Linked DNA regions of Homo sapiens: all the other regions are linked to region 2. The links come from fine-mapping of genetic effects on gene expression. A gene starts in region 2. Each other region holds a variant in brackets. All regions are shown on one strand. Distances are between the middles of the regions.

Evidence for each region. PIP is the estimated chance that this variant, and not a neighbour inherited with it, causes the effect.
Region 1: its variant is the best candidate, but not a certain one, in a credible set for the expression of C2CD5 in lymphoblastoid cells (GENCORD, PIP 0.64).
Region 3: its variant is the best candidate, but not a certain one, in a credible set for the expression of C2CD5 in lymphoblastoid cells (GEUVADIS, PIP 0.52).

What each region holds. Positions count from the first base shown.
Region 1 is chr12:22,589,676-22,592,438 of GRCh38, forward strand. It overlaps C2CD5-AS1 (C2CD5 antisense RNA 1), which reads left to right. Exons shown (of 3, transcript XR_001749044.2): 3 at 1,400-1,722. ETNK1-DT (ETNK1 divergent transcript) reads right to left here. Exons shown (of 4, transcript NR_135030.1): 3 at 1,132-1,249. Among named protein-coding and RNA genes, the nearest start is that of C2CD5-AS1, 13 kb to the left of the region's middle. The variant C/CA (reference allele first, on the strand shown) is at 1,254.
Region 2 is chr12:22,543,029-22,545,791 of GRCh38, forward strand. C2CD5 (C2 calcium dependent domain containing 5) reads right to left here and starts at 1,514. Exons shown (of 27, transcript NM_001286176.2): 1 at 1,292-1,514; 2 at 1,033-1,151. The coding sequence starts at 1,122. RefSeq lists enhancers at 1-274, 1,415-1,644 and a silencer at 1,155-1,274.
Region 3 is chr12:22,508,643-22,511,405 of GRCh38, forward strand. All of the region lies in intron 9 of C2CD5 (C2 calcium dependent domain containing 5), which reads right to left. Among named protein-coding and RNA genes, the nearest start is that of C2CD5, 35 kb to the right of the region's middle. The variant G/A (reference allele first, on the strand shown) is at 1,616.

The DNA.
Region 1 (2,763 bases), 47 kb after region 2:
AGAGTGAGACTCCGTCTCAAAAAAAAAAAAAAAAAAGGTAAGGGTAAACAAAGTCAGGATTTAGGATGAGGAAGTCTGGCCATGGAGCTGACAGTATGACAGTATGGGATTTGAATGCCTGTTGCTTTATTCACTTCTACTAACTCCAAATTATTATTTTTTTAAGTGCAAACAACACTATTTTACACATAGGTAATTTTCCTAAGAAGTAGAAGTATGGCATACAGAGAATAATTTAGAGCTAAATTTCCATGAAATGGAAGGTTAGGGAGGGGAAAATCCAATGTGAGGTGACAATTGTGTTTTGTTCTTGGGAAGGATAAAATTTTTTTTCTTTTGTAGAGACAAGGTCTCCTATGTTGTACAGGCTGGTCTTGAACTCCTGGGCTCAAGCAATCTACCCTCCTCAGCCTCCTGAAGTGCTAGGATTACAGGCATGAACCCCCATGCTCGGCCTCAACTAACTCTTTATGTGGAAAAAAGTACAAATATATTTATTATTTAACTCTTTACGTGGAAAAAAGTATATTTATTATTCTACTTGCTTCTATATTATTTTATTATTTGAGTGCCAAGGGTTGGGGTTACCTGTTCAGATAACACCTTTCTCTATATTAATCTCAGGAGACATGCTGCCTGTCCCTACCACTGGCTCTTGGATGAATAAAGCCTACATTCTCTAGCTCAGTAGTATTCTCTAATTTCACATCTCAGAGAAAGAGGGAGTAGTGTATCCCAGAGAAAATATTTAGGATTTTTTTCCCTTCCCAGAAGGCCCTGGGTTCCTCATGCAAATTGATCTACCTTTGTGCCAGTAGTCAGCCTCACATTCCCAGAATCACAGTGAGTGACTGACTCAATGGAGTCATAGAAGATATTTGCTATACCCTCATTACAGGGCAAAGAACCCTGCTTGTCTTACATTTGCATAAAGAATTGGGCCACTCTAGTGACTCTTCAAGAAATAAATAATAGGCCGGGCGCAGTGGCTCATGCCTGTAATCCCAACACTTTGGAAGGCCAAGGTGGGAGGATTGCTGGAGCTTGGGAGTTTGAGACCATCCTGGGCAACATAATGAGACCCTGTCTCTACAAAAAAATTAAAAAATTAGTCGGCGTGGTGGTGCGAACCTGTGGTCTCAGCTACTCAGGAGGCTGAGGTGGGATGATCACTTGAACCCAGGAAGTTGTGGCTGCAGTGGGCCATGATTGCACCACTGCAGTCCAGCTTGGGCGATAGATTGAGACACTGC[C/CA]AAAAAAAAAAAAAAAAAAAAAAGGAAAAATAATAATAAGCTTCTTTTAATCAATATTTTAAAATGTCTTACCCTGCTATTCATATATGTCCATGATACTGCCTTGGCAATCAAAACATGTTAGTTCTTTTCCCTTCTCTCTTTAGTTACCACCATTCCTGGTATTGGTCCCAGTTCTTCTAAGAATATTTTTGATGCAAGAGCTGTTTTATCTTGAATCCTACATAGCTTATTTTCCATTTTTCCATTCAAATAAAACAACAAGAGAACAATAGAGTGAAGAAAAAGGATGTTTAAGCCTAAATCCAAGACTGAGGTACAAGACCAAGAAAAGTGGGGCAGAAGATGGAAAAGAACAAGTGAAGAATCTTGGAAACAATTCAAAGGCACGTTGGATTCTTTGCTTGTAATAAGAAGTGCAAGTTGGTGTTACTTCTTAAGATCTAATGTTAAAATTTCTTGAATCTGATCTTTATCGTATGCATATTTTTTCATCCTTGGATAGTTAGACTTTTTTTATATGTCAAGAACTCATCTATATTTTTTCATCTATATTTATTCTACATAAATCGATAAATCAAGATGTAATATAAAAATAATGTTGTTGATAGAAAACTTTAGTTTTAGAAACTTTATTTTTAAAAACAGCTCAAAATTGCCTTCATCATATTACTGATTTAAATATTACAAAAAATATTAAACATTTACAAAAGTATTACAGAAAGACTAGCATAATGAAACCTCATACATGTACCACCCAGATTTGAAAATTATTGGAATTTTGTCATATGGGCTTTAGCTACCCTTATTTTCTTTCTTTTTGTTGCTAAAGTATTTTAAAGCCCCTCCAGGACCTCATGTGACTTTATCCTACATACTTGTAATTCTACTGATTTTTAATTAAATTATTGATTAAGTAGTTAACAGAAAACAGGATATTACAGGAAGCATCTAGTGGGGTGCAGAGTCTAGCAATTAATCTTTTCTCATTTAATCAAAGACAGCAGCAGGGCTCTAGTAAAATCAATTATGTTTAGAAATGGAAATTTTTAAAAATTCAAAAACAAGGAAGCATTTTAAGTATTCTTACAGCCTTTACTTCTGTTTTCCTTCCTCTTGACATATTCCCCATTAACAACTGGCTACTTCTTATCTCTTTTGCCCCTCAGTGTAACCAGGATTTATGTAAATCATACGTCTTAACTCAGCAAGAAATTGGCAGGGTCCTAAGACATAGTTCCAAGTAAATTTTATTTTTATAGTAAAATCCTGGCCCTTCTGTCTGGGAGACCTTTCTAGTCCTTTACATGTCAGCACTACCACTTATGCTAATATTATAATTGTGTATTTATCAGTATTTTAACATAATTTTTCTTAGTTTTACCTGAAAAAGGAGACTAAGAAATAAAATGCCCAATGCTGATGAAGGTATATATTGTGGATATTTTAATGTATTTCTGGTGGGAGTATATATATTTGAATCAAAACCAGTTTGACAATAATACTTGAG
Region 2 (2,763 bases):
TGAAGTGATTAAGAATCACCATGACAATGGGCAGGGGAGGCAGTGAACTGTAATTATTCGGTTAGAGAACATTTAGGAAACATCAGGAATATTGAGATGAAATCGAGCTATATATTATGATATATCTATCCATCAATTCTAAGCACTAATAGCCCAAATGATTGCTGCTCTAATGCTCTGGCTCATCACGCCAATTTTTATTACAATCTTTACTTGGCTTCTTTCAGACTCTGGGTTATTACCTTCCGGCCGTAGGCCTTTACTAATTTGCATGACTTTTAAACTAATCATTAGACTTAAAAAGCAATTTTGCAATTTAAGTCCATGGCAATTAAATGACTTCCTACCTCAAGGCGCTAAATTACCCTGAAACACCTCATCAGACCTACCAGCCTATACAAGAGCAGGAAGTGTTGCAGTTGTGTTTTAGAACGTGCATGGCAGATTCACAAAATGTTAGGCATGAGAGTGGATTTCCTCGCACTGTGGGACTCCAAGTGCCCATAAAGGGCTTCATGCACCTTCTTAAACATGATGTCCAGCACTCTGGCCACCCCTTCCAAGGGTGTGTGTGTGCCTGTGTGTGTGTGTGTTTCAGTGGCTGCGGGGCCACACCTTGGGATCTCCTGAGTGGCAGGTGGCCTGTTAATGAGTCCTGACATCAGAGTCATTCCGGCATTTGTGTGTGTGTGTGTGTATGTGTGTGAGTGTGTCGGTGGCTGCGCGGCCACGCCTTGGGATCTCCTGAGTGGCAGGTGGCCTGTTAATGAGTCCTGACATCAGGGTCACCCCCGCATGCACAACAGTACAAGCCTCCCCGCGCAGCGGACTGTGCCGCGGACGCCTGCAAGCCGTGCACCCATCGCACACACTGAGGTCTCGGCGGTCATCCCTCGTGGGAGAGCTGGACAACCACGGCCGAAGGGAGGGCAGTCGAGGGGGGAATAGGCTGAGGGGCTGGGGGCGAGGTGGGTAGATCCTTCACAGGGCTTGGCGCTCCCTGTGTTTTGAGGGGCAGGACCCTGCACCAACCTCCACGAAGGCATCAGTCAGGTCACTAGCACGGTCCATCACTGGCAAATGGCGCCCGGCCACGATTTTCACCTTCAGCTTCCCTGGCATGGTCTCGGTTTCGGCCTCTTCTTGGGCTCCTGCAGAAACAAACAAACGAGTCTGCGCCGAGCGCGGGGCCGGCGGGAGAGGGGCGGAGGCGCGCGGGGTAACTGACAGCGAAGGAGCGCGCGGGGGCGCGCGCGGGCGCCCGGCAGTCGCGCCACGGGTCGCCACTCACTGTCGCAGGAGGAAGGGTGCTGTCCCGCGCGGGTGCTGAGACCTCATTCCGGAGAGGCGGCGGGAGGAAGGGCTTTGATGGGTTCTTCCGTCCCGGCCCCACAAGGCTGGGACGAAAAGCAAAACCCAGTCAGCATCCCGTTGAGCCTCTGCCGCCCCTGCTTGTCTCTCCTCCCCCGCTCTCAAAAATGGCGGCTCTCGGGGCGCGGAAGAAAGCATCGATCGTTCGGCGCTCTGCCCACTTGGCGGGGCGAAACTAAACTCGCCGAGGAAAGATAAGGGGGCGGGGCTGACGTTGAGAAAGCTGGAGGGCAGGGAAATGGGCCGAGTCCTGCATCATCCACCGAGTGGGGGCTGTGGATAGGTGCGGCGCTGCTTCCCTGGAGGGAAACGCTCCATCTTGCGGGCCGAAGCGCGAGTGCTGCTCTGTGACAGCCTCCGGCCGCGGCCTTCCCAGCTGCTACCGCCGCTTTTCGGATGGGCTGTGATAGATGGAGTAGCAGCGAAGACTGCTAGAAGAGCGTTTTCAGTCGGCCTTTAGTGATTCGTAAAACCAAATTAGCTGGTTTCTACTTGGAAGGGGTACAGGTGCGTGTGGTGGTTCCAGTTTTCTGTGAAATAGAGTTAGATGGCCAGGCACAGTGGCTCACGTCTGTAATCCCAGCACTTTGGGTGGCCGAGGCGGGCGGATCACCTGAGGTCAGGAGTTCAAGACCAGCCTGGACAACATGGCGAAACCCCGTCTCTACTAAAAATACAAAAATTAGCTGGGCGTCGTGGCGAGCGCCTCTAATTCCAGCTACTCAGGAGGCTGAGGCAGGAAAATCGCTTGAACCTGCGAGGCGGAGGTTGCAGTGAGCCGAGATCACTCCTCTGTCTCCAAAAAAAGAAAAAAAAGAAAGAAAGAAATAGAGATACCAGGCACATCTCGAATAGTGAAATAAATATTTAGTGAAATATTTTATTCAGTCATAGGCACTTGTGTTGTGCACTGGGTCACAGATATTACTGTGGGCGGGGTGGGGGAGGTCACCTTGAAATCCAAAGTCTCCTCTTGAAAAAAAGTTTCTGCTGGTAGGTGTGGTGGCTCAGATTTGTAATCCCAGCACTGTGGGAGGCTGAGGTGGGAGGATCGATTGAGTCCAGGAGTTCGAGACCAGCCTCATGGAGACGAGGCAACACAGTAAGACCCCTTCTTTACAAGAAATGCAAAAATTAGCTGGGCCGGTGGCTCGTCTGTGGTCTCAGCTACCTAGGAAGCTGAGGTGGGAGAATCTGGGAGAATTGCTTGAGCCCAGGAGTTTGAGGCTGCAGTGAGCTGCCATCTCACCACTGCACCCCAACCTGGGCAACAGAGCAAAACTCTGTCTCTTAAAAAAAATTTTTTTTTAATTAAATGTCCTGCACTCTTAGATCATCTCAGTGTTCTTATTAAGCATCCACAAGCCTAAAGATAAGACCTACAGTAGTAGC
Region 3 (2,763 bases), 34 kb before region 2:
GAAAACAGTTCGGTAATCACTGAGCAAGTACATTTGAACTTTGTAAATGTGAGTTTTAAATGAGAAACGTATAGGTAAGCTTATATTATTAATAATGTAGTTAGGTCTTTCAGATTTTTTTTTCAGTGTTAGGATCACTTAAATTTTAATATTTCCTCAAAATATCTGAGGCATGTGGTGGTCTCACAGAATAAAAAATCACTTTATATGTAATCTTTATACTTAAATCTTTTTTTTTTTTTTTTGAGACGGAGTCTCGCTCTGTCGCCCAGGCCAGACTGCGGACTGCAGTGGCGCAATCTCGGCTCACTGCAAGCTCCGCTTCCCGGGTTCACGCCATTCTCCTGCCTCAGCCTCCCGAGTAGCTGGGACTACAGGCGCCCGCCACCGCGCCCGGCTAATTTTTTGTATTTTTTTAGTAGAGACGGGGTTTCACCTTGTTAGCCAGGATGGTCTCGATCTCCTGACCTCATGATCCACCCGCCTCGGCCTCCCAAAGTGCTGGGATTACAGGCGTGAGCCACCGCGCCCAGCCTTAAATCTTTTAAATATCTAGACAAGAGATACTGAAAATAACATTTTTGTAAGCTAAATGGAAGATAGTACTTCCTTTTTCCTTCTAAAGAAATAGGTAAATTATGTATTAGAAAATATTTTCATATAAGATTTTACATAAGTATGAATAAATGAACCTAAATGACTTCTCAATTCAGGGTTCTTTACCCTTCTCCCCAAAGTTCTTTGTTTGGGATAAAGAAACGAGGGCAAGCATTGTACTAGAGCTGGTCAGAAAGAAACACACAGGGCGATGGCTGCCCATTGAGGCCACGACCCACTCTCCACCTCACATGTCCCCAGTTCACCTAATCGGCACACCAATTCACTCTAAAACACAAAATTTAACCTATAATAAATAAAAATGTCATTGTTATTTAACCAAAACTCCGTCTTCATACAATTCTCTCATGAGAAGAGCTACTGCTGAAATCTATAGCAGATTGTTAAGTACCTATCATCACCACCATAACTAGCAACTACTGTCAAGTACTTCTATGTGCCAGGCCCTGTAGCTTGTGCTGTATAACCTTTCCCATATGAGGGAAGTACTATTATCTCCATTTTTTATATGAAAAACTGAAGTCAAAAGGGCCTTTTATTCCTAGATTCTTTATAAGCAACAAACTTTATCATCTGGTTTCACTGTCATTTAGAGTTAAGGATTTGATTTTATTACACCTGATGAATTTATAGATTTTTCTTCTGTTTAAAAGAATAGCTTCTGCCGGGCACAGTGGCTCACGCCTGTAATCCCAGCACTTTGGGAGGCTGAGGTAGGTGGATCACCTGAGGTTAGGAGTTCAAGACCAGCCTGGTCAACATACTGAAACCCCGTCTCTACTAAAAATACAAAAATTAGCCAGTTGTAGTGGCGGACGCCTGTAATCCCAGCTACTCAGGAGGCTGAGGCAGGAGAATTGCTTGAACCCTGGAGGCGGAGGTTGCAGTGAGCTGAGATCATGCCATTGCCCTCCACCCTGGGCAAGAAGAACAGAACTTCATCTCAATGAAAAAAAAAAAGAGAATAGCTTCCTTAAGATCAGCACAAGCACATCCC[G/A]CTTTCAATGTCTAGATGTGAATTTCAGGAACTGCAGAAGAAATTTTCTCCAGAAGTCTTCATATTTAAAGTAGCTTTCCCTGTGGTACCTAGATAAAGTTACATGCTGATGCTTTGACATAAGCCAAGGGCAGGCAGCATAAAAATATTTAATAGTGTGTGCTCAAAGACAGGTTAGTTGAAAAATCATCAGAGCACAATGGGAGTATTCTTTTAAAAAGAGATTTAAATAGGATTTTTCTTAGGAGCTATTTAAATAGTTTATTCTTTAAATCAAATACTCTTTTTATTATTGCAAAAGACTAAACTTTCTAGATATAAAATCCATAACAGATTTCTGCCATGGTTTATTGTACAATTTTACTCCCACTTCTAAAAAGATCAAAATTCTTCAAGAGTTTACCTTATATCAATGTTTCCCAAAATGTGTTCCTCACTAACAGGTATTTTAAAAGGAAAGTTCTATGGTAAAATGTACTTGCGAAATACTAGGTTAAACTAAGTTCACTAGGTTTCTTGACTGAAGGAACTAAAAAAGTACTTCCATATTTTCTCACAGGTAAAATAAAAGTCTTATTGAAAAACAAATCTGGCTGAGCACAGTGGCTCATGCCTCTAACCCCAGCACTCTAAAAGGCTGAGATGGGAGGATCACTTGAGCCCAGGAGTTCGAAACCAGCCTGGGCATCATAGAGAGAGGCTCTCTCCTAATTAATTAATTAAATATCTATTTACTTTACATCAAAAAATTCATAGGTGGAACTTAAATCTAAATAAAACTTTTATCTCTATTTCTCATCTCCCGAAAACCTAGCAATGCTTCTGTGGAGTAAAGAATAACACTTTCAATTTTGACAACTACTACTTGAATAATCCGTAAAAGAGATTGGGCAAATAAAGTTTCTCTTTCCTCAAGAAAAAAAAAAAAAAAAGGCCATATAATTTATTAAGGGTGGTTTACCAAAGGGATAGAAACGAATATTAAAGAAAGGAATATAAAACATCATATAAGTAGATCATGTCAGTGACATAATCTAGTGTTCAGATTAGCAGAATTAAGTCATATCTGAACACATATGGAGAGAATTCTTCATACTTCTTGCTTTTCCCAAAACAGAAACCATACTAATGGCAGTCGCAAGTGAATA